4 linked regions of the Homo sapiens genome follow. The protein of the gene in region 1 purifies or fractionates together with the protein of each later gene. This does not show direct contact. Each region holds a gene or a part of one and is shown in the gene's direction. Other genes may lie near its edges.

Region 1 (7,806 bases):
TACAGGCATGAGCCACTGCACCCGGCCCAATTTTTTTTTTTTTTTTTTTGAGACAGAGCCTCACTCTGTCTGGCCAGGCTGGAGTACAGTGGCACAATCCTGGCTCACTGTAGCGCCTGCCTCCTGGGTTCAAGTGACTCTCCTGCCTCAGCCTTCTGAGTAACTGGAATTACAAGCGCCTGCCACCGTGCCCTGCTAATTTTTGTATTTTTAGTAGAGATGCAGTTTCACAACATTGGCCAGACTGGTCTCAAACTCCCAACCTCCAGTGATACTCCTGCCCTGGCCTCCCAGAGTGCTGGGATTATAGGCCTGAGAAACCACGCCTGGCCCCAAACAAATTGCTTTAAGACGAGGTCTCCCTATGTTTCCCCACTGCACTTGAACTCCTGGGCTCAAGCCATCCTCCTGCTGTGGCTCCTGAGTAGCTGGGACTACAGACTCAAGCCACCACGCCTGGCCACATTCCACAATTTAGAGAAAGTGCACAACCTGGAATCCTAGGGAGACCCCGATTCACCTCAAAACTGCCACTAAGGAGGTAAAACGCTGCCCCTCTGAGGCAGGCTTCAGTTTCCCTGTGTGTGAAATTGACCTGGCGCTGGGAGAGGCTGGTGGAGGCGCGGATTTTGCAGTTTCCCTACAACATTCTGGAAGCCTGTGGTTCTGGGAAAGGTTGGCGTGGAGAAGACTGGGAAACAACCAGTGGTCACCAGAGCTGTAGCACCTCCTCCACCTCCGAGCTCTGGGGCTGGGAACCCCAGGCTTCGGGGCCCCTGTGGAGGACGCAGGTGGCCCCCTCTTTCCTGACATCTCAGGAGAGGGAGGGGCAACCGGCTAGCAGAAGAAAAGCACAGGAAGGTTATACAGCCAGGTGGGGAAGGGGCCAAATCCCTGAACAACCCCTTCCCAGAGTTCCTCTTCAAGTGCAGGGTACCCAAGAGTCAAGGCCCCGCCCCCTTTCCAGAGGCCCCTTTTCTACCCAGGTGATGGGTCCTAGCTGGGATGGGAGGCAGATGGACGGAGGGGAGGGGGGAGGAGGGGAAGGGAGAGGCAGTGGATGAAGGAGGATGGAAGAGATGACATCCCCCTCGGCCCATTCATCCCATTCAGGTCCCCAAGCCGCGCCCCTCTCCGCCCCACCTGCACTGCCAGTGCCAACATCAGAGGGAGGAAGAGGGAGCTCGGCTTAGAAGGCTGAGGCCCTGCCACCTGGGCCACACCGATCACGTGGCCTTCCTTCTCCCCACAGAAGGCCAGACCATGGACACCTCCTGAGCTGGAGGTCATCCTGCATCTCCACCCTGTTTTCTTTTTCTTTCTTTCTTTCTTTTTTTTTTTTTTTTTGAGATGGAGTCTCGCTCTGTCGTGGAGGCTGGAGTGCAGTGGCGCGATCTCTGCTCACTGCAAGCTCCCCCTCCTAGGTTCACTCCATTCTCCTGCCTCAGCCTTCCAAGTAGCTTGGACTACAGGGGCCCGCGACCAAGCCCAGATAAGTTTTTGTATTTTTAGTAGAGACGGGGTTTCACCGTGTTAGCCAGGAAGGTCTCGATCCCCTGACCACATGATCCGCCCGCCTGGGCCTCCCAAAGTGGTGGGATTACAGGAGCGCAGCACCACGCCCAGCTAATTTTGGTATTAACAGTAGAGATGTTGTTTCACAGTGTTGGCCAGGCTGCTTTTGAACTCCTGACCTCAAGTCAAACACCCGCCTCAGCCTCCCAAAGTGCTGGGACCACAGGTGTGAGCCATAGTGCCTGACCTGTAGTTGTTGAATATTTATTATTAATCTACAAGTTGGGTGTGATGCAAGTCCCATACATGGAGTCCCCCAAACTTCTAGAGCAAGGGCTTCCCCATAATCCTGGCAGGCAGGCCTCCCCTGGGGTTCCCAACTTCTGACCTCACTGAAGTGTTTATCCTCTTCTCTAATCCCAGCCTCCTTTTCCCTGTTTCCATGTCCTCTGAGAGATGCTCCCGCTCCCCCAGGCTCCCTCTGCATCCCCCTCATTTGCTTCCTCCCCAGTGTGTCAATGGAGTCCTAACCCCCACCCTTGACATTGTCCCCTTTTCCTCCTCCAGAGTGGGACCTTATTTTCCCCCAAGTGGTCCTGTCTAGGGGTGCCGCTGCCGGGCCCCCTCTGGTCTTCCTGCTGGAGACTGGGGCCTTTTGGGAGTCAGCAGGCACCCGGGCCAACCGCAGCCAGCGAGGGGTGAGCGATACTTCACCGGCGAGTCATCAGGGTGAGCTGGCCGTGTGCGATGCAGTCAGTGTCTGGGTGACAGACCCCCGGACCGCTGTGGACTTGGTTGTGCTCGAGGTGGAGGTGTTGGGTGAGGTGCCTGCAGCTGGCAGCAGTTCCCTCCACCAACACTTCTTTGTCACCTGCTTCAAGGCCGATAACTCTGAAGAAGGTGGCCCAGGGGTAGGTGGAGGGGCTGCCGCTGGGGTGTGGACCGGGGGGCACTGGGTGTCTGAGTGCAAGGCCAAGCAGTCCTATGTGCGGGCATTGACCGCTGATGCCCAGGGCCGTGTGGACTGGCGATGGATTCAAACTGGCACAGCCTGTGTCTGCACACTCCTCAGCCGGACTGGCCGGGCCTGAGACTTATACCCAGGAACTGGTCAGGCAGAAAAAGAACAGAGCTGGATGCTGAGAGACCTCAGGGTTGGCCCAGCTGCTCTACGGACGGACCCCAGTTGGGGAACTCATCAAATCATCGCAAAATCACAACTCTCTGAATTTGAGCTCAATCTCTGTAGGATGGGTGCAACAACGTGGGGTTTTGAAGGTTGAATAGGAGCTCTCCCAGGGGAACTTGAGGGTAATCATGATGATGATGATAATAATAATAGCCACTATTTACTGAGTGTTTACTCTTTCGTAGCCCTAATACATAACTCCTCGGATCAACTCTCATGGATTTGATCATTGGTGACCTTTGGTGTTAAGTTGCTGACTGCTCAGTCACAGAGGACACCACCTTGCTCATCCTGGGGAGTGGGAGGGCACATTTCACGATGTGCATGGGGGAGGAGGGAAACTGGAACATGCAAGCAGATGGCCAGGGGACCTTGAGGACATGGTCTACAGAAGGCCTTTAAGTATCTGGGAGCTGGGGTTCAAATGAGAAATCTTACTTGGTGAGAGTGGGCAGGGGTCGGCTTAGAATATTTTGTTTTGAGATAAAGAGCTACCGATCACACGGGGAGTATAAGCAAGGTTCAATGAGAAGTGATCAGGATGCTGGAGAGTTCAGCCCTGGGCGGGGAGCTCAAGTCAGGTTTCTAGCCCTCTTCCCTGTGCCAACCTATACCCTACACTGGGAAAGAAACAGACCTTAAAATTGTCCAGCTTGATGGCATCGCGGGGAAGGGACTAAGTCCAGATAATGTCCTCTGAGGCTGAGGCCTCGGGGGCAGGACACACCTCCTGCGGGCCTATTCAATAATCAGTTAAATCACCTGAAGCACACGCATTTCCGGGGACCGCTCCGGGCATCCTGGCTTGAGGGTAGAGTGGGCAGAGGTCCCTAAGGGAGAGGTGGGGCTCGGGCTGAATCCCTCGTTGGCGGCACCAGGGTCAAGTGGCTAACCTGGCAGCACAGTCACGGGGAGGCCCTCTCTCATTGGGCAGAAACTAAGTCCGAAGCCGCGCCCCTCCTGGGCGAGGAGGTTCCACCTCCTAGGTTCCTGTGATTCTCCTGCCTCAGCCCGAGTAGTGGGACATCCCACTTGCTCCCGCCATTCTGTTTACCACAGGTGACGACCGCCATGGCTGACAGGCAGGGAGGTCCCCCGAGGACCGAGCAAGCCTCGGTCTCCCAAAAAAAAAAAAGATACATTGAAGTAATTTAAAAACACTTAGGAAGATGTCATTTCTTCCTATCAAGGCGTCCTCCCTTTATGTTTTGTTATTATATAGGGAACGATAAAAAAATTTTTTTCTCAACCAATGTGGACCCGGTTGGCCTCGAACTCGTACCCTCGAACCCTCCCCTCCCTGAGGGCCCGAGGGCACGCGCAACCGGTCGGAGCCACAATAGCTCGGGGTGTCGGGGATCTCCTTTCTTCCTTTTGACCTTACGCAGGGTGATGGAGCCAATCAGGAGAGGCTCACCCCTGACGTCACCCAGTCCCCAGGGCCAGTGAGGGCCCTGCGTTCCGTGGCGCCCCCTGGAGGGAGGAAGGGGAACTGTATCTGAGAGAGAGCAGCCAATTGGGTCCGCTGACTCCGGCCGGGTTCCCGTGCCGCGTCCAACACCCCTCACTCCCTGTCTCACTCCCCCACGGAGACTCAATTTACTTTCCATGTCCACATCCCCAGTGCTTGCGGAAGATATCCCGCTAAGAGAGAGACATGTCAAAGGTAGGGTAGATCGACATTTCCAGGCACCAAAGATGGAGATGTTCCAGGAAAGACTGCAGGGCCCCTGGGCACCTTCCACCTGCTTCCAGGCCATCACTGGCATGAGAAGGGGCAGACCAGTGTGAGCTGTGGAAGGAGGCCTCTTTCTGGAGGAGCGTGACCCCCAGTAAGCTTCAGGTGGGGCAGTTCCTGAGGGTGGGGATCTAAAATGTTGGGGTATCTGAGATCCTCTGGGCTGTGGGGTGGGCTCTGAAAGGCAGGTGTCCGGGTGGTGGGTCCTGAATAGGAGATGCCACGAAGGGTCTCTGGGTCTTTGTGGGTGGTGTACCACGCGGGATGGGAAGGCCAGGACTCGGGGCTGCGGTCTCAGACCCGGGTGAAGCAGTGTCCTTGTCCCAGGGGCTGCTGCTGTTGCTGCTGCTGAGCATGGGCGGGACATGGGCATCCAAGGAGCCGCTTCGGCCACGGTGCCGCCCCATCAATGCCACCCTGGCTGTGGAGAAGGAGGGCTGCCCCGTGTGCATCACCGTCAACACCACCATCTGTGCCGGCTACTGCCCCACCATGGTGAGCTGCCCGGGGCCGGGGCAGGTGCTGCCACCTCAGGGCCAGACCCACAGAGGCAGCGGGGGAGGAAGGGTGGTCTGCCTCTCTGGTCAGGGGCTGCGGAATGGGGTGTGGGAGGGCAGGAACAGAGGGCTTCCTGGACCCCTGAGTCTGAGACCTGTGGGGGCAGCTGGGGAGCTCAGCTGAGGCGCTGGCCCCAGGCACATGCTCATTCTCCCACTCACACGGCTTCCAGACCCGCGTGCTGCAGGGGGTCCTGCCGGCCCTGCCTCAGGTGGTGTGCAACTACCGCGATGTGCGCTTCGAGTCCATCCGGCTCCCTGGCTGCCCGCGCGGCGTGAACCCCGTGGTCTCCTACGCCGTGGCTCTCAGCTGTCAATGTGCACTCTGCCGCCGCAGCACCACTGACTGCGGGGGTCCCAAGGACCACCCCTTGACCTGTGATGACCCCCGCTTCCAGGCCTCCTCTTCCTCAAAGGCCCCTCCCCCCAGCCTTCCAAGCCCATCCCGACTCCCGGGGCCCTCAGACACCCCGATCCTCCCACAATAAAGGCTTCTCAATCCGCACTCTGGCGGTGTCTTTCTGTGGGCTCAGGGCAACCACACACACAGGGTGGGTCCAGCTTCCAAACCATTTTATACAGAGTCACAGTACAGAACTCTGGTAGAAAACAGGGTGGACGGCTGGGCGTGGTGGCTCACGCCTGTAATCCCACCACTTTGGGAGGCCGAGGCAGGCGGATCATGAGGTCAGGAGATCGAGACCATCCTGGCTAACACGGTGAAACCCCGTCTCTACTAAAAATACGAAAAGTTATCCGGGCTTGGTGGCGGGCGCTTGCAGGAGAATGCAGTGAACCTGGGAGCGGGAGGTTGCAGTGAGCAGAGATCGCGCCACTGCACTCCAGCCTGCACGACAGAGCGAGACTCCATCTCAAAAAAAAAAAAAAAAGAAAGAAAGAAAGAAAAAGAAAAGAGGGTGGAGATGGGGGATGACATCCAGCTCAGGAGGTGTCCATGGTCTGGCCTTCCGTGGGGAGAAGGAAGGCCACACGATTGGTGTGGCCCAGGGGGCAGGGCCTCAGCATTCTAAGCCGAGCTCCCTCTTCCACCCTCTGAGGTTGGCACTGGCAGTCCAGGTGGGGGCTTGGGGACCTGAATGGGATGAATGGGCCAAGGGGGATGTCATCTCTTCCATTCTCCTTCATCCACTGCCTCTCCCTTCCCCTCCTCCCCCCCCTCCCACCCCCGGTCCATCTACCTCCCATCCCAGCCAGGAGCCGTCACCTAAGTAGAAAAGGGGCCTCTGGAAAGGGGGCGGGGCCTTGACTCTTGGGTACCCTGCGCTTGAAGAGGAACTCTGGGAAGGGGTTGTTCAGGGATTTGGCCCCTTCCCCACCTGGCTGTATAACCTTCCTGTTCTTTTCTTCCCCTAGCCGGTTGCCCCTCCCTGTCCTGAGATGTCAGGAAAGAGGGGGCCACCTGCGTCCTCCACAGTGGCCTCCGAAGCCTGGGGTTCCCAGCCCCAGAGCTCAGAGGTGAAGGAGGTGCTACAGCTCTGGTGACCACTGGTTGTTTCCCAGTCTTCTCCATGCCACCCTTTCCCAAAACAACAAAACAAACAAACAAAATTGGGCCTGGCGCAGTGGTTCATGCCTGTAATCCCAGCACTTTGGGAAGCCGAGACGGGCGGATCACAAAGTCAGGAGATCAAGACTATCCTGGCTAACATGGGGAAACTCCGTCTCTACTAAAAAATACAACAAATTAGCCAGGCGTCCTGGTGGGCGCCTGTAGTCCCAGCTACTTGGGAGGCCGAGGCAGGAGAATGGCAGGAACCCGGGAGGCGGATCTTGCAGTGAGCCGAGATCGCGCCACTGCAGTCCAGTCTCAACAACAGAGCGAGACTCCGTCTCAAAAAAAAAAAAAAAATTGATTGGAACATCCTCCAAGATGCAAGACTCTCAGTTCCTCAGAGTTCTACAGGAAGGATGGCAGAGTGCAGTTGCCCAGAGTTGAAGTCCCATCTCTGCCATTTGTTGGCTGTGTGACCAGGCACAAATCATTAATTTCTCTGAGCCTGTATTTTACCATCTGTTGCTATTGAGTAATAGTAGTGGACTATTTTCTATTTTTATTTTTATTTTATTTATTTTATTTTTTTTTGAGACGGAGTCTCGCCCTGTCACCCAGGCTGGAGTGCAGTGGCGTGATCTCGGCTCACTGCACCTATGCTTCCCGGGTTCAAGCGATTCTCCTGCCTCAGCTTCCTGAGTAGCTGGAACTACAGGCGCGCACCACCACACCCAGCTAATTTTTTTTTTTTTTTTTAGTAGAGACAGGGTTTCACCATGTTGGCCAGGCTGGTCTCGAAGTCCTGAACTCAGGTGATGCACCTGCCTCGGCCTCCCAAAGTGCTGGGATTGCAGGCATGAGCCACTGCGCCTGGACGAACGTTTTTAATTATATTATTATTATTATTATTATTATTATTATTACTAATTTTTGAGATGGAGCTTTGTTTTTGTTGCCCAGGCTGAAGTGCAATGGCGGGATCTTGGCTCACTGCAACCTCCGCCTCCTAGGATCAAGAGATTCTCCTGCCTAAGCCTCCCAAGTACCTGGGAGTATAGGCATGCACCACCACGCCCGACGATATTTTGTAATTTTAGTAGAGATGGGGTTTCTCCATGTTGGTCATGTTGGTCTGGAACCCCTCACCTCAGCTGATCCACCCACCGCAGCCTCCGACAATTACAGGCGTGAGCCACCACGCCCAGCCGTCCACCCTGTTTTCTACCAGAGTTCTGTACTGTGACTCTGTATAAAATAGTTTGGAAGCTGGACCCACCCTGTGTGTGTGATTGCC
Region 2 (8,111 bases), on another chromosome or scaffold:
ACCCACTTCTACCTTCACCTTCCCACAACCTTATATCGTCATCCAAGCACAACCACCAAGAACATGTCACTCTATTTCCATCTAGTCATTACTTTGCTATACATTGGGAGGTTTTATCATTTTTATCTCATTAATAAAACATGTTTAAAAAAATTAAAAAGAAAAGTAGTTCAATGTGGCCTTTAATAATAAAACAAAGCAAAAGTAGTAACCTGCCTGTACCATGTTATTCCATTCTGAATCCCCAAATAGGAAACACCATTCAACTTGTTAAGCGATTCCTTGTGGTATTTATCTCCCTAGTTCTAACAGGCTTATGAGACTATTTCTTGGTTTTTCAGTTTATGACATTTTCTATTGATTTTCTACTTTGGGAAATGAGGATATAGCTCTCTCCTTCCTACCTCCCATCCCTGCAACACACCTGGTTTCCTTCCCCCATCTTCCCATCGTGGTAATTTTACACTTTTTGGTAAAAATCAATGGTTACCTTATTATTATTATAACCAAGTAACTGTTGTCCATCACTGAGCCACACGCTCTAATGTGAATCCATTTATTTTCTTGCACAACTTTTTGTTCTTCATAGAATTAGCAATACTGTATTTTTTATTTTGTTTTCTATGAGTCTATCAAAAAGGCAACCCCAAACCTACCAACAAAATGTAAAACTCCTTACAAAATAGTCCATCACAGTCATCATTTGATGAGTTTTGGTATTATTCTTTTTTTCTTGGAGGCATTCCTCCACAAGCTCTCTTCTTTCCAATCTGCATGGGTTTGTCTCTAGACCAGCCCCGCCACTGATCCAAGATTCTCCTCATTATTTATTATCTTGGGAATTCCCTTTACCTCTGTCCTGTCCTGTATCCCATTCATATATCTTCCTCTGTGAAGTATTGAGATCTTTTGCCCATTTTTAAAAAATCGGGTTTCTGTCTTCCTATTATGGAATTGTGAGAATTCATTCCATATTTTAGATCACAAGTCTTCAGTCAAATATATGTCGCAAATATTTTTTCTCATCAGTGACTTTGCCTTTTCATTTTTTAAGGGTGCCTTTTGAAGAGCAGCTGTTTTTAATTTTGATGAAGTCCAATTTGTCAGTTATTTGGTGGTTAGTGATTTGGGGGTTTCAGCTAAGAAATCTTTGCCTTGTCTAGAGTTGTAAAGATTTTTCCTTTAGATCCAACAGGCCTGCCCACTCCTCTGTATTTGGAGCCATTCTGAGACATCTTCATTATTTACTCCTTCCTTTTTCCTAATGTCTCCTAGTTATATCTGTAGCCAGGGGCCCAGATTCTGTTATGATCTAACAGTCCTCTAATGCTTCTCTCCCATTATTTCTCTGCACTAAAGCTCATCACCAACAAAATTGTTGTACTGTTGGTGCCAATGAAAACCATCACCTCCTGAGTTGTTTTCATACCAGTTCTATCTAAAAATGTTCTTTTTCTTCCTTTAAGTTTTAGAGAAAAAAACAGCCTTAGGGTCTGAGCTCATTCATTCATTTATTTGTTCCTTTTCAACAGAAAATGTGTCTGCCCACCATGGACCCAGACACTGGCAGTTGGGCGTGCACAGCATAGCTGGGCCCTGTCCTGTGTATTTCCAGTCTGGTGTAGAAGGTGGAACATGCCATTATGGGTGTGATCTGTGTGGCAGTTGTGAGGTGGACGATCTGCCACATGCCTTTCCCTCTGAATTCTGAATCAATTGAGAAATTAATATTAGAGGCCAATGGAGTCAAAGGCTCAGACTTACTGCTGGTAAAGCTAGACTAGAGAATGTGGTTTTCACCCAAGGCCACACCAGTGTTCCTATGCCTCCTACATCTCATTAAACTTGCCACTAGGTAATAGGCAAAGCAGCTGCATAGATACACGCCTCCCTTCCTCGGGATGGGCAGGGGATGGTTACTGCAAGAAGCAGCCAGAAACCTAGAAGGGAGGCCACATACTTGCAGGCAGGCAGGTCCCAAAAGAGCGAGCCAAGGTCAGGCCAGGCTCCTCTCATCACACGTGCCTGAATCCCCATCTCTCCAAACAGATAAGTGAGTTAGGGTAAGGAGAAGGGAAATAGGGGAGTAGAGGCATTCTCCCCCATGACTTCTGCAGGAGAAGTTTTGATTTTATAAACTCAAGCAGCAACTGGCCAAACGGTTTCAAAAACAAAGGTTGTAAAAATTCTTTAGAAAATTTTATGTTAAAAAAGTTCTATTTGATGTTGTCTGTGAGTGCCTGGTCTATGGAGAGGCCTTCAAAAGCCAAGGCACTTCTCAAAATGCTCAAATTGTGGCCCATGGGCCAGCTGCTATTTGTCAGCAGTGAACAACAAAATTGGGAGCTCATGCGAGGATGAAAATCAGTTGCATTGCGAAGAATGCTGTTAGTTGAGCTGACATTTGTGTTTTGTAGCAAGACTTTCTCAATGAATGAAGCCAAGTGCTGATATACGTACATTCTGGCACACATCTCTTACCTAGCCATGCGCTGGCACTTTGAGTAGCACTGGCCTCATGCCTCTGGACATCTCACTCCCCGCCTCCCCTGGCAGGGCGGTGATGGGTAGTAGACAGCTGGTGTGCTGGACATGGTGAACATGACCCTTGGCCTCTTCCTGCCCAGGTGATCGCCATGATCAAAGGCCTGCAGGTGCTCATGGGCAGGATGGAGAGCGTCTTCAACCAGGCCATCAGGAACACCATCTACGCGGCATTGCAGGACTTCGCCCAGGTGACGCTGCGTGAGCCCCTGCGGCAGGCGGTACGGAAGAAGAAGAATGTCCTCATCAGGTGGGTTTTCAGATGCCTTCAGGAGCATATCAGACATAAGCATGCCAGGTACCCATCAGAGAGGATGTCCTGGCTCAGCCACTGAACACACATGGGTCCTTCCAGCAAGCTCCAGAGGGCTCTTTAGGAGATTGGGCATTTGGGATGAATTAAGCCTTCATCTCTAGAAGTCCATATCCACTGCTATCTAGCTGTGTGAACTTGGTCAGGTTGCTGACCTTCTCCAAACCTCAGTTTTCCTCATTTGTAAAATGGGGATTATAATGCTACCTGCTGCCTGTTGGGATGATGAAATGAGATGGTCCATATATAGACCTAAGCACATGCAGCATGGAGTAAGTATGCAGCACATCTAAGCTATTATGAAAACTAAGCACACACAGATTTCATAAGACCGGTGAGACTCCCCTATAACCAGAAAGGAAATACAGACCTCTTGCCTCACACAAGTTCTGTCTCACTCGATGGGCTCAGAGCTGAGTTCTCAGACATCCCTTGGACATCAGAACCATGTAGGACACTTGTTTAAACACAGATTCCTGGACTGTACCTTAAATCTGTTAAACCAGAGTTTTGGAATTGGGGCAGAAATGAGCATGCTTTACAAGCACCCCAAGAATTCAAATGTGGGTGTTCCTGGGACACCACGGGCCCTAGAAACACAAGCTTGTAGTGACGTTTTCCCATGGTGAAACCTGGTCTAAGTCTTAGTTCTTCCTTCCCCAGCGTCCTACAGGCAATTCGAAAGACCATCTGTGACTGGGAGGGAGGGCGAGAGCCCCCTAATGACCCATGCTTGAGAGGGGAGAAGGACCCCAAAGGTGGATTTGATATCAAGGTGCCCCGGCGTGCTGTGGGGCCATCCAGCACACAGGTAAGCGGCTCCAGGCACAGGCCAGCTGCGTTGACTCAGAGGCCAGCCGGGCTATGGTAGATCATCATGGCTGGCCATGGGCAGTGGGACTGGGAGCCGTCGGTCAGGAGGGGCAGGGTTGAGTGGCTGCTCCGGTCTTATTCTGCCATCTTGTTTTGATATAGGAAGGAGGACCACTGGCTTAAGATTCAGGAGACCTGGATTCTAGTCCTAGATACCTGTGTGACCTCGGGCACTTTACAGATCTCTCTGTGCCTCAGTTGTTTAAACTGGCTAATGGGGATAATACCACCACATCCACCTTGCCTGGCTATCTTCTAGTCCTATGAAGTATAGATTCCAAAGTGGAGGAGGAGGTTAAAGTGGAATCTATCTGCATGCATCTATGCTGCCCCTCTTTAATAAGTCCTGGCCCTTTCCCCTAAAAGTTCTGCCTCTGACTTGCTGTGTGATCTTGGGCAAGCACCTTGAGCTTTCTGAGCTCTGATTATCTTCTCTGTAAAATGAAAACTTTGGATGAGATTGTGTTACTAACAAAATATTCCTTAGTTCCACATCCTTCCAAAAGTGCAAGTATTGAAAGCCCTTGTCCCCTTAGAGGAAGTCTAGTATTTGGAAACACTCAGAGTTGCCAGCCAGAGCTTCTGCACAAGAGGTCGCCCGTGGCTTATCCAGAGCAGTCATAACGTTACAGAAAAAAAAGTCAATAATCTGGGCATCTTCGTTAAATCCCTGCTACCTACTTAAGGATAGGTAGTTTCTGGTAATATTTTTGATGTACTGGAAAAAGCAGATGGTTCTCATTGCAAGTTTAAGGGTCTCACAGGCCTCACTTCCCATGACCTTTAAGCCTCTCTCTGTTCTCAGTCACCCAAGATGGACCATCTGAGGCCCACCCCCGACCCTTCTCCCTGTGTGTGCGTCTGTGTCTGTGCTGGGGGCTGGGGCAGGGGAGAGGTGGGTTCTCGGCAGGGTCATCTTAACTCCCCTTGGCTTCACAGCCCTCTGCTAGTTTGCACCAATCTCACCGGCTGGTTGTAGAACGCCCCAAGGAAGCGTCTGCAAACAGTTCTGTGTAATATCAAGGGTTGAGGTCCGGGAGACACTGAGCAGGGCTTTCAAGTGTTTCTGTAAATTTTAAGACATGAGTGAGCAAGAGACAGACAAGGCACAAAAGACACTGGAAAGGAGGAGGAGGGGACTTAACAGGCAGAGAGAAAAGGAGAGGAGAGGAAGGAGTATTTGTGTAGATAATGTGAGAGGGGTGGGTCACCAGCAGTAAATCCCGCCTCACCCCCAACCTCTACCAGGTCATGCTAGGTGGCACAGACATGTTGAATAGACTCGTAGACAACCAGAGCTGGGAGCGCTATTAGAGAAACCTAGGCCCTCCCCCTCTCTTGCGGATGGGGAAACTGAGGTCTAGAGAGGGGAAGTGACTTGTCCAAGTCACAAGGTGAGTCCCAGGTGGAGGTGGGACAAGAACCCAGGTCTCCTGACACCCACCCAGGGCTCTGGTACGGTCTTCAGGACACAGTAGACATGGGCATCTTGCATAGTTGGGATAGAGACTGTTTTGGTGAATTAAATGCTCTGTTAAGTAAAAGTACGTGGGAAAAAAGTTCACCTTCTTATGGGTGAAACCAGTTTTCAGAGAATTAGAGTTGGATATCAACTGGACAGCACCCACAACAGATTAGACTTGGATTCTTCCTTTGAGGACTTGAGAGGCCGTCATGAGAAGAGTGCTTCTCGGCTCCTAGGGATGGTGAGACAGGCCCTCCAACAGGGCTGCAGATGGGGGACTGTCTGAGGCACTGACGGCCACTGTGGCTGCTTTCCCACAAAGGAAGCCCTGTGGCAGGGATGGTGGGTCACACGTTTCTGTGGCTGCTCTACCCGCATCAGTGCCAGGCATGTGATGGGGGAGATCCCAGGGAAGCTCCAGAGGCAGCGAAGACGAACGCGGTTGCTGGGAGGTTGGAGTGTCTCAGAGGTGGCCCCCGGCAGTCGCGGCGGCTTTCCCACCGTATACAATACCTCTTGCTTTTCTCTCTCTCTCTCTCTTTCTCTCTCTCCCTCTTCCCTGTCTCTCCTGCCCTCCCATTCCCTCTTCCTTCTCTCCTATCTATGTCTTAGGCCTGCCAGTGGTCCCCGAGGGCTTTGTTTCACCCCACTGGTGGCACACAGGGCCGAAGAGGCTGCCGATCCCTGGTATCACACCGCCTGGCTGGGTTGGTTTGGGTACCCTTCTCGAGGAGGCAGCAGGAATGGACTAGCCTGGCTCCTCAAGGCCCCTTCCAGCCCTAAGATTCACAGACAAATGATGTGGAGAGATCTAGATTAGCAAAGAGAACCACCCCACCGCACTTGCATCCTTTGCACTTAAGGCACCCTGTAAGCGGGAGTTAATTGTCTAGTAGCCTCCTGTGTAAGTACCAATGTTAACCCGCCTTCCACCCTGAACTTCAGCAGGCTGTGCAGTGCAGCTGATGCCACCAAGGGGGCGCCATCGCTCAGCCATGGGGTCAAAACGCTGAGGGTCAGGAACAGGTGTGGGAGGGGGTTCGTTCTGATCTTATCCCATTTCTCAGTTCCTCAGAATGTTAGTGCTGAAAGGGACTGGTGTGAGAAGGCATCTGGTCCAACCCCCTCATGTTACATGAGACAACTGAGGCCCAGAGTGGGGGCTTTGTTGCCTAAGGTCACACAGCAAATCAGCAGCAGTGCCTGGCCTTGAACCCCGGTCTTTTGACTCCCAGTCCAGTGCTCCACCCATGGCATCTGTGGCCCTCTGGGAAAGCAGGGAGTGACTCCAGGGTGACACGTAATGAGGTTCTCCTCTGATATACACGCCCTTGGCCAAGCAGAGCAGGGAGCTACCTGGTGTGGCCAGGTCCACTGGCCCAGGGATGCCACGGGGCCCGGGTTGGCCATGAAGGTTTTCACAGTTCCACATTTATTTCTCAAACCTTAAACTGGTGCTTCCTTAGGACAGTGCTTTTTAAGAGCAGACATCTGCAGAAAAAAAAAAATACATAAATACAACATGAAGCAACCTTTTTCCCCGGGGTAGAGGGCCAGCTTCTGACCTTCTCATCTTGCTTTCTTTTTCAAGCTGTACATGGTGCGGACCATGCTTGAATCACTCATTGCAGACAAAAGCGGCTCCAAGAAGACCCTGAGGAGCAGCCTGGATGGACCCATTGTCCTCGCCATAGAGGACTTTCACAAACAGTCCTTCTTCTTCACACATCTGCTCAACATCAGTGGTGAGCTGCATCCCATCCCTGCTAAGGCATGGGAGGAGGGGATGAGGGCTCTCAGAGCCGCTAAGACCACCAAGCCAGGCATTGCAAAGGGACGTGACCGTTGACCCTAAGGGGCACATATCACCACCAAGGAAAAAACACATACACTTTCCAGTGGGCTTTTGGAGCTAGGAAAGGCCAGGTTCAACTCAGCTGTTCTGACTTAGCTAAATTTGTCCAGGAGATACTTGTGGCTAATTTGTCATAAAGTCCTTAGTAGAGCGGGATCAAAAACAAGAATACGTACATACAGACACACGGATGCTAGACTTTTGCTACTCAGCCGCAACCAAGCGCTAATTAGTACTTGCTGCTGCCAGCAGGGGAGGCTCTCGAGCTGCATCCCAGTCCTGTGTTCTTCACACTTCCTCTCCTTTTAGTAAGATGTATGTCCAGAGCAGAGGAAGAGTAGTATCTCAGGAACATGAGTCTTCATATGTCTGCTGGCATTGACAAGAGTGATTGTAACAAACAGTACAAACTTCTCCATTAGAGAGTAGCCCGGGAAGGGCCTTCAAGGTCTCTAAACTGTATGGGATCTGGCAATTATCACACGCGAGGAGTCAAGGAGCCACAATCCAGTTGAAAGTGGGCACTCGGGGGCCTGTCTTGACACTGTGTTTGTATAATGAACACACTTTTTTTTTTTTTTTTGAGACGGAGTCTTGCTCTGTTGCCCAGGTTGGAGTGCAGTGGCACTATCTCAGCTCACCGCAACCTCCGCTTCCCAGGTTCAGGCTGGAGTGCAGTCGTGTGATCTCAGCTCACCGCAACCTCTGCCACCCAGGTTCAAAGAATCCTTCTGCTTCAGCCTCCCGAGTAGCTGGGATTACAGACATGCACCACTGTGCCCGGCTAATTATTTATTTTTTTAATTTATTATTATTATTATTTTTTGGTATTTTTAGTAGAGACGGGGTTTCGCCATGTTGGCCAGGCTGGGCTCAAACTCCTGACCTCAAGTGATCTGCCTGCCTCAGCCTCCCAAAGTGCTGGTATTATAGGCATGAGCCTCTGCGCCCGGCCACGAGCGTACTTTTCATGCTTAGGTTGCAGGTTTTGTAGGAGAGTGATGGCTTTGTAGGAGAGGGATGGGAACTATAGGGGCATCTAAAGCTCTAAAACATCACTG
Region 3 (8,111 bases), on another chromosome or scaffold:
CCACTCAGCAAGTTTAAAAATGACTGTCTGCTGACCCCCAGACTAAATCCACAACCAACTGGTCTATGAATTGCTCATGCTGATATGAAACCTCCTGTCCTCACTGGAAAACTTACAGAGAATCACTTCCAATCTCTCCCCTGAGCTTCCAACCACCCTGGGCAGATAATTTTTTTTTTTTTTTTGAGATGGAGTCTCACTCTGTTGCCCCGGCTGGAGTGCAGTGACGCAATCTTGGCTCACTGCAACCTCTGCCTCTTGGGTTCAAGCAATTCTCTTGCTTCAGCCTCCCTAGTAGCTGGGATTACAGGCACCTGCCACCACGCCCGGCTAATTTTTGTATTTTTAGTAGAGATGGGGTTTCGCCATGTTGGCCAGGCTGGTCTCGAACTCCTGACCTCAGGTGATCCACCCGCCTCGGCCTCCCAAAGTGCTAGGCATGAGCCACCACACCCAACTCCTGGCAGAGCATTTCTAATAAGACCCAGAGAGGACAGGGATTTGTATACAGTCACATGGCAAGTTTGTGGCAGAGCTGAGCCTTCCTCATCATCAAGATCAATTATCGCCTGACCAACACGGAGAAACCCTGTCTCTACTAAAAATACAAAATTAGCCAGGCGTGGTGGCACATGCCTGTAATCCCAGCTACTTGGGAGGCTGAGGCAGGAGAATTGCTTAAACCCGAGAGGTGGAGGTTGCGGTGAGCCGAGATCACACCGTGCATTACACTCCAGCCTAGGCAACAAGAGCAAAACTCCATCTCAAAAAAAAAAAAAAAAACAAAAAAAAAACAAAAACGCCAGGCGCAGTGGCTCACGCCTGTAATCCCAGCACTTTGAGAGGCTGAAGTGGGCAGATCACCTGAGGTGGGGAGTTCCAAACCAGCCTGACCAACATGGAGAAACTCCGTCTCTACTAAAAATACAAAATTAGCTGGACATGGTGGCGCATGCCTGTAATCCCAGCTACTTGAGAGGCTGAGAAAGAAGAATCACTTGAACCCAGGAGGCAGAAATTGTGATGAGCCAAGATCATGCCATTGCACTCCAGCCTGGGCAACACTCCAGCCTGAGCAACAAGAGTAAAACTCCGTCTCAAAAAAAGAAAAAAAAAATCAATTACCATTATTGTTTCACTTATGAGTATTTACCGTGTGCCAGGCACTGTGCCAAGCACCTTACCTGCATTATCTCACATGATCCTCACTCCAACTCTTTGAGGGAAGTACTACCATTGGCTTCATTTTATAGATGAAGAAACTGAGGTTCAGAGAGGTTACATTAAATCTAGCACCTACCCTGTACCAGGTGCTGGAGGAACAGTGGCAAGCAAGACAAAGCCTCTGGATTCGGGGAGCTTATGTCTGGTGGGGGAGGCTGACAAACATGTAAACACAGAAAACTATATATATATATTTTTTTTGAGATGGAGTTTTGCTCTTGTTGCCCAGGCTGGAGTGTAATGGCATGATCTCGACTCACTGCAACCTCCGTTTCCCAGGTTTAAGCAATTCTCCTGCCTCAGCCTCACAGATAGCTGGGATTACAGGCATGTGCCACCATGCCTGGCTAATTTTTGTATTTTTAGTAGAGATGGGTTTTCGCCATGTTGGCCAGGCTGGTCTCGAACTCCTGACCTCAAGTGATCCGCCTGCCTTGGCCTCCCAAAGTGCTGGGATTACAGGTGTGAGTCTCTGTGCCTAGCCAGAAAACTCTTAAGAGGTATGTATCAGGCTGGGTGCAGTGGCTCACTGGTGAAAAGATCTGCACCCAAATAGCATGTGACGGGCAGGATTTGGACCCAGGTCTGTGTATGCCAGAGCCCAGTGTTTATCCCTCTGCTCTCTCACCTTCCAAAAAATGGTAATAAACCATGGTAAGCTAGCTTTTCCCTTTGGGGACGAGATCCTTGGTTTGTCCTACCCAGGTATGTAGGCAGTGGTCGGGGGTTGGGGGTGGCTGAGCTGTCCTGAGCTCTAAACCGCTGTTTTTTTTTTTTTTTTTTTGAGACAGGGTCTTACTCTGTTGCCCAGGCTGGAGTGCAGTGGCTAGTCACAGGTGCAATCATAACAGACTGCAGCTTTGAACTGCTGGGGCCAAGTGATCCTCCTGCCTCAGCCTCCCAAGTTCCCAAGTAGCTTGGACTACAGGTGCACACCGCCATGCCTGGCTAAACCACCTCATTTCTCCTTTCAGGATCAAGCACCCCAACATTGTAGCCCTGGATGACATCTATGAGAGTGGGGGCCACCTCTACCTCATCATGCAGCTGTGAGTGGCCCAACCTCTGCCCTGCCCCCACACCTCTCCCAGCTGTCCCAACCCTCTTTGCCAGACTGCCCTATCCCCTGCTGCAGGGTGTCGGGTGGGGAGCTCTTTGACCGTATTGTGGAAAAAGGCTTCTACACGGAGCGGGACGCCAGCCGCCTCATCTTCCAGGTGCTGGATGCTGTGAAATACCTGCATGACCTGGGCATTGTACACCGGGATCTCAAGGTGGGGCTCAAGGGGGTGTGGTGAGCTAGGGTACCCAGGGGTGGGGCCTTTGCAAACCCCAAACTGTCTGACCTTGGGCAACTTTCACCCCCTCACTGAGCCTTGGATTTCCATCTACAAAGTGGATCTTGTAACCTTTAAACTGCCTCCTCCCATTCTAGTCCAGATACTCAAAGGAACACGAGTGAATTGTGTGGCATTTTATCCAAACAACATTTTGTCTTTTTCTGATTAAAAAAAAAAAAATCTGGCCAGACAGGATGGCTCACGCCTGTAATCCCAGCACTTTAGGAGGCAGAGACGGGTGGATCACCTGAGGTCAGTTCGAGACCAGCTTGGCAAAACCCTGTCTCTACCAAAAATACAAAAATTAGCCCGGCGTGGTGGCAGATGCCTGTAATCCCAGCTACTAGGGAGGCTGAGGCAGGCGAATCACTTGGACCCGGGAGGCAGAGGTTGCAGCAAGCTGAGATTGTGCCATTGCACGCCAGCCTGGGCGACAGAGCGAGCCTGGACGACAGAGCGAGACTCCATGTCAAAAAAAATAAAATAAAAACAAAAAATCCTATTCCCCTTCTGTAGAAAACTTGGATGGGACAGCAAAACATAAAGAAAAAAGCCAGAAATCCCCGAAATCCTACTCCTCGGAAATAGCGACGGGGCTCACATTTAGCAGTACATCTCAATCCGTTCTAGGAGAAGGGCACTTGGGGTGTGACATGCCTGGTTTTGAATTCTGGCTCTGCTACTGCCTAACTGTGGGTTCTTGGGTGAGTCACTTTGCCTCCAAAGGCATCAGTTTCCTCATCTGTTAGGTGAGATTATACAGACTGGCCTAGCAGGGAAGCAGTGAGGATGGCATTAAATCAAGCACTAATCCAGGGTCTGGCATAAAATAGGCATTCAAACATTCCTTTAGGGCTTTACAGTGCACACCTGAGGTTTAGAGACAGTTCCCCCCCACACCCTCTTGAGCCTTGTCCTTCCTGGAATTTTTGGCCTTCTTGAGAGCTTCCTTGATTTTCTTATGACAGCCATGAAGCCACAGTGGCTTTTGGGGATCCATTATTTCTCAGAAGGTGCTTGGAGCGGCAGAAGGTTCTACCAGCCTCTAACCATCTCTGATTGCCCCTTCTCTTCCCTCCTGCCCTTCAAGCCAGAGAATCTGCTGTACTACAGCCTGGATGAAGACTCCAAAATCATGATCTCCGACTTTGGCCTCTCCAAGATGGAGGACCCGGGCAGTGTGCTCTCCACCGCCTGTGGAACTCCGGGATACGTGGGTGCGGAGGGCCCTGGGCTGGGGCTGTGATGGTGGGGGGAACCAGGAGTTGAAGGGCAGAGATTTGTCACCACCACGTCCTCTTCCCTCCACAGCCCCTGAAGTCCTGGCCCAGAAGCCCTACAGCAAGGCTGTGGATTGCTGGTCCATAGGTGTCATCGCCTACATCTTGTAAGTGGGGCTTGGCCATGGTAGGCTGTGGCTCCAGAGTTGTCCTCTCGCCTACTTTCCTCTCTTCCTTCCTCTGCTCTCCCTCTGCCCTCCCTTCCTTCCCTCCCTCCCTTCCTTCCACCAATCAATTACCAGTATTACTTCATTCAATAGATACTATGTTTCAAGCACTGTGCCAAGCAAGCACTGGGGTAAATTTAGCACAGCACAAACCAGACAAAGTGCCTGCCCTCAGGGAGCTGACTTTCTTTCTAGTAGGGAAGACAGACAATCAACAAGTAAATAAATCTACAAACTGACGTCAGGTGATAAAAATAAATACTGTGGAGAAAAACCAAGCAGGAATAGGGAGACGGGGTGATGCCATTTCAGTAGGGAGGTCAGGGAAGGGCTCGCTGTGGAGGTGATGACCGAGTGGTGAGGGAGCCAGACATTGGAGGTGTGGGGAAAGAGTGGCATAGGCAGAAGCAATGGCAAGTGCAAAGGCCCTGAGGAGGGCAAGATGGCGGCACATACAAGGAACAGAAAGGATAATGTAGCTAGAACAGGAGTGAGCAGGCAGGGCTGGTAGAGTTTATAAAGGGGGAACTCCTTCCATGGCTCCTGCCTGACCCCTGAGACTGCCCCAGTGCTCCACCCCGGAGCCAACGGCACCCGAAAGTGGAAATGAGGATGAGTTTCTCCCTGCCCAGGCTCTGCGGTTACCCTCCCTTCTATGACGAGAATGATGCCAAACTCTTTGAACAGATTTTGAAGGCCGAGTACGAGTTTGACTCTCCTTACTGGGACGACATCTCTGACTCTGGTATTTGGGGCTTTGCTTTTTTCCCCTGGGCCCTGCCTCTGGTTCCTCCCTCACCTGCTTTGGGGGCGGTCTCCCTCCTGCCTTCCTTCTGTCGGATTTTCCAGCACCACACAAAGAGCTGTCTTCGAGACCAGACACCCTACCCCTTCTTCCTTCTGCTTGGGTACTTCCTTCTGCTTGGCTCCCAGAGTGAGAAACTAGGCATTCATTTGTTCAATCTTCAAACATAGTCTATTTGAAAATACCTCTCCCCTATTGACACCCTAATGTCTAAAACACCACCATAAACATTTTCATCCTCCTTTTGTGCCCCCTATTAAGAAGCAAACCTGTGAAGCTACTATCGTTTATCATCAGTGTGAATGCACTGAGATTAGTCAAGAACAACTTTTTTTTTTTTTTCTTTCTTTTTTGAGACGCAGTCTCGCTCTGTTGCCCAGGCTGGAGTGCAGTGGCACAATCTCGGCTCACTGCAACCTCTGTCTCCCGGGTTCGAGCAATTCTCTGCCTCAGCCTCCCAAGTAGCTGGGATTACAGGCGCCCACCACCATGCCCGGCTAATTTTTTTTGTATTTTTAGTAGAAACAAGGTTTCACCATCTTGGCCAGGCTGGTCTTGAACTCCTGACCTCGTGATCCACCTGCATTGGCCTCCCAAAGTGCTGGGATTACAGACATGAGCCACTGTGCCCGGCCATATGTTTTTCTTAAGAGAGAAAGGAAAGAGCTGGAAGGCACGGGGTGGGAGGGCCTGAAGAAGAGCATAGGTTGGGTGGGGTGGGGCATGGACTGATTTGGCCTCTTTGTCTTGATGCCAGGCCAGACCTGAGGGAGTGGGTATGCTCTTGGGGAGTACACAGGCAGTACCATGCTGTCATTATCTTTGCTTTTGTCTTGGGGGTTTAGCCAAAGATTTCATCCGGCACTTGATGGAGAAGGACCCAGAGAAAAGATTCACCTGTGAGCAGGCCTTGCAGCACCCATGGTGAGAATTCACACAACCTGTGAGCTGGGGCGGGATTTGGGGCCCTCAGGTCTGCTTCTGCCCTCATAGGCAACCCACCACATAACCCCATCCTAGGATTGCAGGAGATACAGCTCTAGATAAGAATATCCACCAGTCGGTGAGTGAGCAGATCAAGAAGAACTTTGCCAAGAGCAAGTGGAAGGTGAGTCCATATCCCTAGTTCTGGTCCCAGCCTCCCCAGGACTCCTCCCCATCCCTACCCAGGCTCAGCTTGCACAGCACCTGGCATCACACTGGGCACACAGTAACTGCTTAGGGATCCTTACTGAAGGACTTCATTCATTCACTCTTTCATTCAACAAACACTCCCAACACCTTCTCTATTCCAGAGAGGGTCCCTCACCTCCAAGTCTAGAGGAAGAAGTCTGTAATTCTTCAGGAGGCATCTGATCCAGCCTATGGGGTCCGAGAAAGGTCATAAAAGTGGTGATGACCTGACAGAGCTGTCAGTTAAGTAGGAATTAGTGAGGCATAGCGGAATAATGTCTATAGCCATTCCGGGAAGTGCAAGTGCTAAGCCTGGCCAGACTGGAGGGGCTGAGGGGACTGAGAGGCAGGAGCCCAATTTAGAGAAGCAGGTAAGGGGCCAGGCCTCTTAGGGCCTCATATGCCACAGAGGAGCACCAACTTGATCCTGAGGGCACTGAGGAGCCCCAGAAGAATCTTAGGCAAGTATTTGCTGCATAGAAAGGGCTCTCAGGGCCAGGCATGGTGGCTCACGCCTGTAATCCCAGCACTTTGGGAGGCCGAGGTGGTTGGATCACCTGAGGTCAGGAGTTCAAGACCATCCTGGCCAACATGGCAAAACCCTGTCTCTACTAAAAATAAAAGAATTAGCCACACATGGTGGTGCGTGCCTGTAATCCCAGCTACTTGGGAAGCTGAGGCAGGAGAATTACTTGAACCTCGGAGATGGGGGTTGCAGTGAGCTGAGATCGCGCCACTGCACTCCAGCCTGGGCAACAAAGTGAGACTCCACCTCAAAAAAAAAAGAAAGAGCTCTCAGGATGCAGAGAATGGCATGGAGTAAAGACTGGGTGACGCATTAGGAGGCTGTGGCAGAGATACAGGCAGGAGATGGTAAGGGTTTGGAACCACAGTAGCAGCAACAGGGGGCAGAGAACAGTGGTTGATCCAGGAGTCATTTAGGAGGTGAAACTGACAAGACATGACGATGCAATGGATGTTGGGGGAAAGAGATGTCAAGGGCTGGCCCAAGACTGTGGCTGGGAACAGAATGGATGGTGGTGGTACCATGACTGAGATGGTTATCACAGGGACAGAAACATGTTTTGGGGGGATGGTTTTAGTTTTAGACATGGTGAATTTGAGGGGTGTGTGGGACACCTAGGTGGAGATATTGAATAGAGACACACCTGAGCAAGTTACTTCAGCTTTCTGTGCCTCAGTTTCCTCCTTTGAAAATGATAATAGTACCTACCTCAAAGACTTTCATGAAGATTAAATGAATTACTACGTAAAGTGCTTAGAACAGTGCCTGACATACAGTGCTATAGTGTTTGCTATTACATATTAATATGAATTATAGTTATGTTTCTATTTATATATATAGATACACATACATCTAACATATGTGCGTGTGTGTGTGTAAATATATAATAAAGCCTTGTAGAGGTTTTTGGGGGGCTTTAGGGGAATTAATAAAATAACTCCTGAATGAAAATAACAGAACAATTGCAAGAATCCCACTGCGCCCCTGCCCCATGACTTGACTCTCTCAAAAGTCCTTTCTCCCCTCTCCCTTCAATGCCTTCAATGCCAGCAAGCCTTCAATGCCACGGCTGTGGTGCGGCACATGAGGAAACTGCAGCTGGGCACCAGCCAGGAGGGGCAGGGGCAGACGGCGAGCCATGGGGAGCTGCTGACACCAGTGGCTGGGGGTGAGGAGCGGGCTCTGCAGAAGGGCATGGGTGGTCCACAAAGGTGCACCCGGGCTGGAGTGGAGGGCCTGCCCCTGCGGCCACCTCTGTTCTGTCTTCCCATGCAGGGCCGGCAGCTGGCTGTTGCTGTCGAGACTGCTGCGTGGAGCCGGGCACAGAACTGTCCCCCACACTGCCCCACCAGCTCTAGGGCCCTGGACCTCGGGTCATGATCCTCTGCGTGGGAGGGCTTGGGGGCAGCCTGCTCCCCTTCCCTCCCTGAACCGGGAGTTTCTCTGCCCTGTCCCCTCCTCACCTGCTTCCCTACCACTCCTCACTGCATTTTCCATACAAATGTTTCTATTTTATTGTTCCTTCTTGTAATAAAGGGAAGATAAAACCATCCTTAGCGCTGTCTCCCTCAATATCCCCCACCCCATCTTGTTGTG
Region 4 (8,111 bases), on another chromosome or scaffold:
GAATTAAGAATGCAGCATTTTTGTATGTTTTTTATTTTAACATGCTGCACAGTTCAAAATAAATGAAGTTGTTTTTAAATCATGTATGTGATGGGGCTGTGCTAGTGACTGGGAATACTAATGTACAAGATAGTCTGAGTCTTCAAGAGCTTATAGTTAGGTAGAAATCCTTATAGTACAGATAAAAGATAAGTGAAAAAGAGAATAATATAGATCACCTAATACTTAAAAGTATTTCCTTTACAGTAAAGTTTGTTTTAACTTGAGAGTACACATACAATATTTATAGTATATGTAGCATAGAGGTTAACAGCGTGTTTAGCCCACAGTGCCACTAATAAGTAATTCCTTTCAGAGTTACTGGTGTAAGCTAAAAAAAGGAATAAAGGGAGATGGAAAAGAAGATTATAGGAGAAGAGAACCTAAGTTGGTGGGGGCCCATGATGGCAGGTAGAAGAAAGAAAAAGGTATATTTGGTTGAAATGTAGATATGTTTCAGGTGTCATTAGGGCCCTCTGAGCCTTCAAAATCAAAGGTTAATTAAAACCTATCTGATTGGGAAAATTAGGCGCAGAATGATATGGGTAAATATAATGATAGAACATTTAAAATATGGTTTCTGATTCATAAGCCACTAAGGTCACAACCTCTTGAGCCATGCTGACTTTTAGACAAATAAAGTATGTGAATTTGCCCTTATGTTAAATCATCTTAGTAAAATAAAATAAAATGAATTCTTGATTTTTGTTTTAGTGTCTTTGCAAGATATAACAATGAGGAAAGCTTTCCGAAGTTCTACAATTCAAGACCAGCAGCTTTTCGATCGCAAGACTTTGCCTATTCCATTACAGGAGACGTACGATGTTTGTGAACAGCCTCCACCTCTCAATATACTCACTCCTTATAGGTAGGTAGGTTAATAAATAGTAGCCCTATTATTTATCTCAGACTTCAGATTGAAATGCTAAATCCCCAAACATTCTTTATTTCATTGGGGTTCTAGCCAACACAGAGAGCCCTCTCTGTCCACCACCTTTGGAAAACCTTTGCTTTTATTCATTGGATGAATTCTTAAGATTGTGGCATACAAAAGACAAGACCTATTTAAAAGAGTTGTTTTTACAAGTTTAGAAAAGCCACTGGTAAACTTATTAATGTAAAGAGATAAGGAGTTATTATTGTCCTTTTAATTTAATTTTTAATCAAATGGAAAAAGCTCAAAATTCTGTCCTACTAACAAAATAAACATAATTTTTGCTTGTTTTGTCTACTCTTTTTTTTTTTTTTTTTTTTTTTTGAGGCGGAGTCTCACTTTGTCACCTAGGCTTACTGCAAGCTCTGCCTCCCAGGTTCATGTCATTTTCCTGCCTCAGCCTACCGAGTAGCTGGGACTACAGGCGCCTGCCACCAAGCCCGGCTAAATTTTTATATTTTTAGTAGAGATGGGGTTTCACTGTATTAGCCAGGATGGTCTCGATCTGACCTCGTGATCCACCCGCCTTGGCCTCTCAAAGTGCTGGGATTACAGGCGTGAGCCACTGCGCCCGGCCTGTTTCGTCTACTCTTGATTTGATTTGTATACATTAACTTCTTACATAATGAATAGGTAGTACCTTTATAAAATGCTTTTTACCACTTAGAATAAAATCTGGAATTATTTAGCCTTTCTTTGAAGTTCTTTCACATGGTTTGTTAAATGGGTAATGTACAACACAACCTGAATAAAATAGTATTCAGAGAGTTATTTGAAATTGTAAGTCAGTGTGCAGATAATTAGATATAAATGTGACTGTTAGAATGACTATTACATGATATCTTTTGGATTTAGTAAGATAATAAATAAATCATAGTATTGGCAGAAACTGCAAAATTTCTGTCTTCTAGATGATGTTACTGTCTTTTCAGGCTTTTATCTTTGGCAGAGCTATTTGTAATTATTGGAATTGCCCAAAGGACTTTTTAGAAAATTTGGGATTCAGCAGAAATTAGGGATGAAAATTGCCCAGCTATACTTTAAATTGTTAGTACTAACTTGGAAAAGCATCTGCTTTACCACTTTTCTTTGTTTCCTCATATTTGTGAGAAATTTTCTATTGGTGCAATATTCAGTTTTATTTTGGCACTATTTTAACATGCTGTATTTTATTAATGTAAGAGGATAAACATTTTAGTGAAATTATTTCTATTCTGATTGCCTAAGTCTTACTAATGTGTGTTTTAATTGATATTTTATATTTCAGAGATGATGGTAAAGAAGGTCTGAAGTTTTATACCAATCCTTCGTATTTCTTTGATCTATGGAAAGAAAAAATGTTGCAAGATACAGAGGATAAGAGGAAGGAAAAGAGGAAGCAGAAGGTATTACAAGAGATTAAAAAATTGAGGTTAATTTTTGTATATTTGTGTTTTGTTGCATATATTGAACTTCATTAATCTTGTATTTTGACAGTTTTATTTTATTGGGTCCATATAGTTAAATACTGAAGTCTTTATAACTCCACAGAAAGAACACAGTCTGATGGGGAGCAGATGAGCAATTAGATTATTAGAGTAGGGCATAATAAGTGCCATAGCAGAGGTATGCATAAAGGGTTTAGATAACACAAAATAGCATCTGCTTTAGCTAGCAGGCAGGGTAAACCCTTCCCACAAAGCTTATAATGAATCTTGAAGAACAGATAGGAGTTAGGTGTACCAAGGAAGAGAGGAACATTTTGGTAAGGAGCAATGGAATCTTGTACAGATATTGGTAACGTAGATTAAGCTAGTATTTTGTTGCTACAGAGCACATCCTAAACATTTCTCTCCTAAATGTTTTGGAGAGGTTATTATATTCACATGAAATTTCTGTTATTGTCATTTTCCACTTTCTAATAAAATTCACTTGTATCTGCTTTATATTTCATGTTAATGATAACTGAAAACACAGAAGGATGAAGCAAAGTTAGATTTAGGTTGAATTATGAAGGAGGCAAATTCTGTCTTTATCATCTCTCTGGTTCTCCTGTAGCTATCTCTGCTTTCCCTAATCCCTGTATAATGCCATTGTATTGTCTTCTTTGCTAGATGGTAACCCAGTGTTCTAGCTAACATTTGCAAATTGGTGACTGGCAAGCCAGATTATGCCTGTAGGGAGTGTTTTGTTTGCCAAACACAGAGGTTTTTAAATTTTGGAACTAGAGTGCCTGAGATGGACATGTCTGTCTAGCTCACCTCATGCCCCATCTTACACCCGACTGGCTTCATTCATGTATGTTATCCGCTTGGCCGCTTTGGGCGTTTGAATTTGTTACACTTACTCTAGCCCTTTCTGTACTTTCTCCCCCAGTTTTGAATCACTTTTTGTTTTATTGTTTAAAGACAATGTTTTCTGTTGAGTGATATAGTTATTATCGGTTAATTAGATAATTGGATTTTTTTCTAATGTGTTGGCTAGCTAATCAGTTACTTCCCAGATAACATAACCTTAGTAAATTGTTACGTTTTGATTAGGGGCAGACAATGCCATTCATCGTAGAAATTTCAAACTAATGCCTGTGGAGCAAGGGTTCATGAGTCTTTTTTCATCTGAAAGACTTTCTGACCTCAAATTGTATTCTTTAGGCATACTGTTTTGTGTCTGGTGCATCAGTTCAAATTAGGGGTTAAACAAAACATGGCAGGAAACTGGGATTACAGCAGACTGGCTAAGATTTAACTGAATGTACAAGTAAACCATTTCTGTGTTACTTTTACTATATTATGATGACATTGTCTTTTTCAGTGTTGATGTTAGAGTTTAATTTGATTGTTATAACCTCCTTTTTAAAAATTAGCGCTTAAGCATTTGACTTTGTTTCAATACATCTGTTATAGCAGAAAAATCTAGATCGTCCTCATGAACCAGAAAAAGTGCCAAGAGCACCTCATGACAGGCGGCGAGAATGGCAGAAGCTGGCCCAAGGTCCAGAGCTGGCTGAAGATGATGCTAATCTCTTACATAAGCATATTGAAGTTGCTAATGGCCCAGCCTCTCATTTTGAAACAAGGTTTCTTTACTTTTGTTTTTTTTTTTAAATGATAAAACATTGGCTTTATTTGTAGTATCTGTACTTCTAAGTCTTGAGTCCTAAACTGTTGAACAGGCAGACCCTGTTATAAATATAGAGATTATTTCAAAATCCTGACCACTGTGAGCCTACTAAAGTCAGGCCTTGAGCAGGTCATTTTCATACCTGGACCTTAGTTTTGTCATCTTAGAAAGAAGTGGTTGGAGTGGCTGATCTTTAGGGTTTTAGCTTTAGTGTGACGTCTCAATAGCCTCTCGATATTTCAGGCACAGTCTGCTAGAATTTTGTAATAAAAGTTTAGGGTCTGGGGTTTTTTTGAAATACTGTTGATTTATTGCATATAAAATAGGAGTGAAGAAGGGGTTCTGTTTTGTTCCTTTTACTTTCCCCTGACTTCCTTTCTTTGCCACATTGCCCACCTCAGATATATTAGGACTTTCAAACAAAAGTATTGATCCCTTTTGTAGAAAAGATTTTTTCCTTTCTTAGTGGCCAGGGGCCCTAACTAAATAACATACTACCAGCAAACACATTAAACTGGCATCTGTCTACGAAGACACTTATTTGGGTATAGTCATACGTTTGTTTGTTTGTTTTGAGACAGAATCTTGCTCTATCGCCCAGGGTGGAGTGCAGTGGTGTGCTCTCAGCTCACTGCAACCTCTGCCTCCTGGGTTCAAGCGATTCTCCCACCTCAGCCTCCCAAGTAGCTGGGATTACAGGCACACGCCACCACGCCCAGCTAATTTTTGTATTTTTAGTAGAGATGGGGTCTCACCATGTTGGCCGGGCTGATCTTGAACTCATGACCTCAAGTGATCTGCCTGTCTCAGCCTCCCAAAGTGCTGGGATTGCATGTGTGAGCCACTGTGCCCAGCCTAGTCATATGATTTTTTAATGGAAAAGAGCTTAAGGTTTTCTTTTAAGTAATATACATATAAATGATTGGGCCATAAGTGTGCAACATCTTGACCTATTTTAGGAGAAATATACATCTGAGAGATACTATTTATCTGTATTACTGAAAGAATTGACATTAAAAAATTAATAAACTTTAGACATTTATTTCTACTACAGTTGAGTAATTAAGGTACTTATCTGACTCACTAAATACAATAATTTCTGACTTGCTGTGTGCACATCTGTTAAATCCAACTTTTTCCCAAGAATGTACTAGCAAATATTTATAAATCTTAACATGTTCGAGTTATCTAAAATTTTGCTTACATCTAAGTCACATGTTGCTATGTTACTCAGCTATTTTCTGAGTACCCTTGCACCTTTGAAAACAGCAGAAGGACAGAAACAATATAGCTAGCCACCTCTGTGCTGCTAGTATCTGGGAGGCCTTTCTCTCTGGTGCAAGACTTTTAGAAGTCATTTAAGTTTAAGAGCACACCGAGATATACTAGTAGTAGAAAACTCATTTTCCTATTCTACCTTTCTGTCATTGGCATCTTCTTGTAAAGAACTAAATAGAGGCAGATAGCTTTCCACACAATTTGCTAAAAGTTAATTATTTTCTTGTTTATTAAATTACGTACGTAATGCTTTTCATCCTGTGAGTTGAATTAGTATTCTGTTATAAAATAATAAAATAACCGATGGTCATCATAGTAGATCTCTAAATCAACAAGTAAGGGTTATATTGTGAGCAGCATTCTTTGTTTTAAAAGCAGGATTAATATAATACATTTCTGAAAGTTTCTTAAAAATAGTTAAAATATTGGCATTGAAAGGATAAACTTTAAATATTTAATATCTCATGTAGAACCCTTTCCTCCCAATAATTCAAGAATAATTCACTGATACTATATATTTCTTTTAGACCTCAGACATACGTGGATCATATGGATGGATCTTACTCACTTTCTGCCTTGCCATTTAGTCAGATGAGTGAGCTTCTGACTAGAGCTGAGGAAAGGGTATTAGTCAGACCACATGAACCACCTCCACCTCCACCAATGCATGGAGCAGGAGATGCAAAACCGATACCCACCTGTATCAGGTATGTTGGAACAAGCATATGATGTTTTATCTTAGGAGTCAGTAAGCTTTTTCTTTCAAGGACGATATAGTAAGTATTTTTGGCTTTCGGGCCTTACAGTTTTTGTCACAAGTACTCAATTCTGCCATTGTTGCATGAAAGCCACCATAGAATATACATAAACAAATGAATGTGTCTGTGTTGAAATAAACTCTATTTATAAAAACAGGGAGCAGGTCAGATTTGGTCTGTGGGACATTATTTGTAATCTTCTGGTTAGAGCTGACACACTCTCCTAGGAAAATTTAGCTAATAAGAATTTAAAGATTAAAGCCTGTTTCATTTTATTATAGTGTTGTTATCAAGCATATCATGTGCAGTGTATTAAGAAAAATTAAGGATTTTTTGGAATGTGGGTAACAGTCTAAGAAATGGGAACCAAAGATGTGATTATTAATACTAATTTGGTATTAAGGAAAATACTTAAAGAATTTCAGAGAGGATTGGCAGTTGCTTATAATAATCTTTCAGTAAAGCTATTTTGAAGTTTAATCTTGTCAGTTATTATCCAAATGATAAATTTCTAATAGAGAAATATTAGGGAAATTTTCTAATAGAGATATAGAGATCAGCTTTACAATTTTCAGTTAAAAATCCAATTTTCTATCACTGACTCATTTGGTGTTCCATCCTCAGGAAAAGAGAGAGCTGTAAATTTCTTTTTGTGGTTTGTAATTAGCTGTCATTGATTTAACTGAAATAGCATATGATGAGACTTCATAGTTTCAGTATAAATATAGCATTGTATTGGCCACATGTATTGCCACAAAATTGCATTATGATCAATGTTGAGTCATTATAGAGACTCCTGTCAGTATAGAATTGAGCATTTTATTTATTAAAGTAAGCATAAAATATCTGAGTGGATGCCAAAGTTGCATGAGAGAATGAGACTATTTAGACTATTACAAACCAAAGCACCACTCATTAATTTTTTTATTGATGTGCTTTTAGTTCTTTTTTTTTTTCTAAATACTGTTGAAGATGTTAAATTTCTATAGGAGCATGTTATTGGATCCATTTTGATATAATTACTGATAGTCATTTATAGTTTGTGTGGTTAGATTTTCTCTTTAGGCTTTTCTCTTTTAATAACTTGCTAGAATCTCTTTGTCATTTCAGTTCTGCTACAGGTTTGATAGAAAATCGCCCTCAGTCACCAGCTACAGGCAGAACACCTGTGTTTGTGAGCCCCACTCCCCCACCTCCTCCACCACCTCTTCCATCTGCCTTGTCAACTTCCTCATTAAGAGCTTCAATGACTTCAACTCCTCCCCCTCCAGTACCTCCCCCACCTCCACCTCCAGCCACTGCTTTGCAAGCTCCAGCAGTACCACCACCTCCAGCTCCTCTTCAGATTGCCCCTGGAGTTCTTCACCCAGCTCCTCCTCCAATTGCACCTCCTCTAGTACAGCCCTCTCCACCAGTAGCTAGAGCTGCCCCAGTATGTGAGACTGTACCAGTTCATCCACTCCCACAAGGTGAAGTTCAGGGGCTGCCTCCACCCCCACCACCGCCTCCTCTGCCTCCACCTGGCATTCGACCATCATCACCTGTCACAGTTACAGCTCTTGCTCATCCTCCCTCTGGGCTACATCCAACTCCATCTACTGCCCCAGGTCCCCATGTTCCATTAATGCCTCCATCTCCTCCATCACAAGTTATACCTGCTTCTGAGCCAAAGCGCCATCCATCAACCCTACCTGTAATCAGTGATGCCAGGAGTGTGCTACTGGAAGCAATACGAAAAGGTAATTTTCTCAGCTCCATGAAAAGCATTGCTATAGTAGCATTGGAAACTTTCTAAATATTTAAGACAAAAATGTGTTCCTTATCTATAAAATTTTAGGTGATCATGTTTGTGTACAAATGGCCTTTAGAAAGTAAAGCTATATCCAACTTATATTTAAAATTATTTTCCAGAAAATATATCACATTTGACCATTTTATTTTCATGCTTTGTAGGTATCCTTAAAATGTTTATTGAGTGAATGAGAAATTTAATATATCAGACT

Evidence for each region.
Region 2: the proteins of CGB2 (region 1) and CYFIP2 purify together in Homo sapiens (affinity purification with mass spectrometry; 2 studies listed by BioGRID and IntAct, with this or other methods). This does not show direct contact.
Region 3: the proteins of CGB2 (region 1) and CAMK1 purify together in Homo sapiens (affinity purification with mass spectrometry; 2 studies listed by BioGRID and IntAct, with this or other methods). This does not show direct contact.
Region 4: the proteins of CGB2 (region 1) and WASF1 purify together in Homo sapiens (affinity purification with mass spectrometry; 2 studies listed by BioGRID and IntAct, with this or other methods). This does not show direct contact.

What each region holds. Positions count from the first base shown.
Region 1 is NC_000019.10:49,027,735-49,035,540, forward strand, and holds CGB2 (choriogonadotropin subunit beta variant 2 isoform 1 precursor), read left to right. Parts: upstream 1-4,155; 5' UTR 4,156-4,361; coding exon 4,362-4,370; exon of another isoform or gene 4,371-4,536; intron 4,537-4,769; coding exon 4,770-4,937; intron 4,938-5,172; coding exon 5,173-5,487; 3' UTR 5,488-5,504; downstream 5,505-7,806.
Region 2 is NC_000005.10:157,317,135-157,325,245, forward strand, and holds part of CYFIP2 (cytoplasmic FMR1-interacting protein 2), read left to right. Parts: intron 1-2,627; coding exon 2,628-2,794; intron 2,795-3,520; coding exon 3,521-3,668; intron 3,669-5,807; coding exon of another isoform or gene 5,808-5,882; intron 5,883-6,786; coding exon 6,787-6,940; intron 6,941-8,111. UniProt on the Homo sapiens protein: Involved in T-cell adhesion and p53/TP53-dependent induction of apoptosis. Does not bind RNA. As component of the WAVE1 complex, required for BDNF-NTRK2 endocytic trafficking and signaling from early endosomes.
Region 3 is NC_000003.12:9,757,301-9,765,411, reverse strand, and holds the end of CAMK1 (calcium/calmodulin-dependent protein kinase type 1), read left to right. Parts: intron 1-2,198; coding exon 2,199-2,273; intron 2,274-2,359; coding exon 2,360-2,498; intron 2,499-3,654; coding exon 3,655-3,781; intron 3,782-3,875; coding exon 3,876-3,951; intron 3,952-4,643; coding exon 4,644-4,756; intron 4,757-5,661; coding exon 5,662-5,740; intron 5,741-5,836; coding exon 5,837-5,924; intron 5,925-6,125; coding exon of another isoform or gene 6,126-6,225; intron 6,226-7,565; coding exon 7,566-7,683; coding exon of another isoform or gene 7,684-7,790; coding exon 7,791-7,873; coding exon of another isoform or gene 7,874-7,895; 3' UTR 7,896-8,065; downstream 8,066-8,111. UniProt on the Homo sapiens protein: Calcium/calmodulin-dependent protein kinase that operates in the calcium-triggered CaMKK-CaMK1 signaling cascade and, upon calcium influx, regulates transcription activators activity, cell cycle, hormone production, cell differentiation, actin filament organization and neurite outgrowth.
Region 4 is NC_000006.12:110,101,324-110,109,434, reverse strand, and holds part of WASF1 (actin-binding protein WASF1), read left to right. Parts: intron 1-753; coding exon 754-907; intron 908-2,240; coding exon 2,241-2,358; intron 2,359-3,855; coding exon 3,856-4,028; intron 4,029-5,877; coding exon 5,878-6,057; intron 6,058-7,218; coding exon 7,219-7,847; intron 7,848-8,111.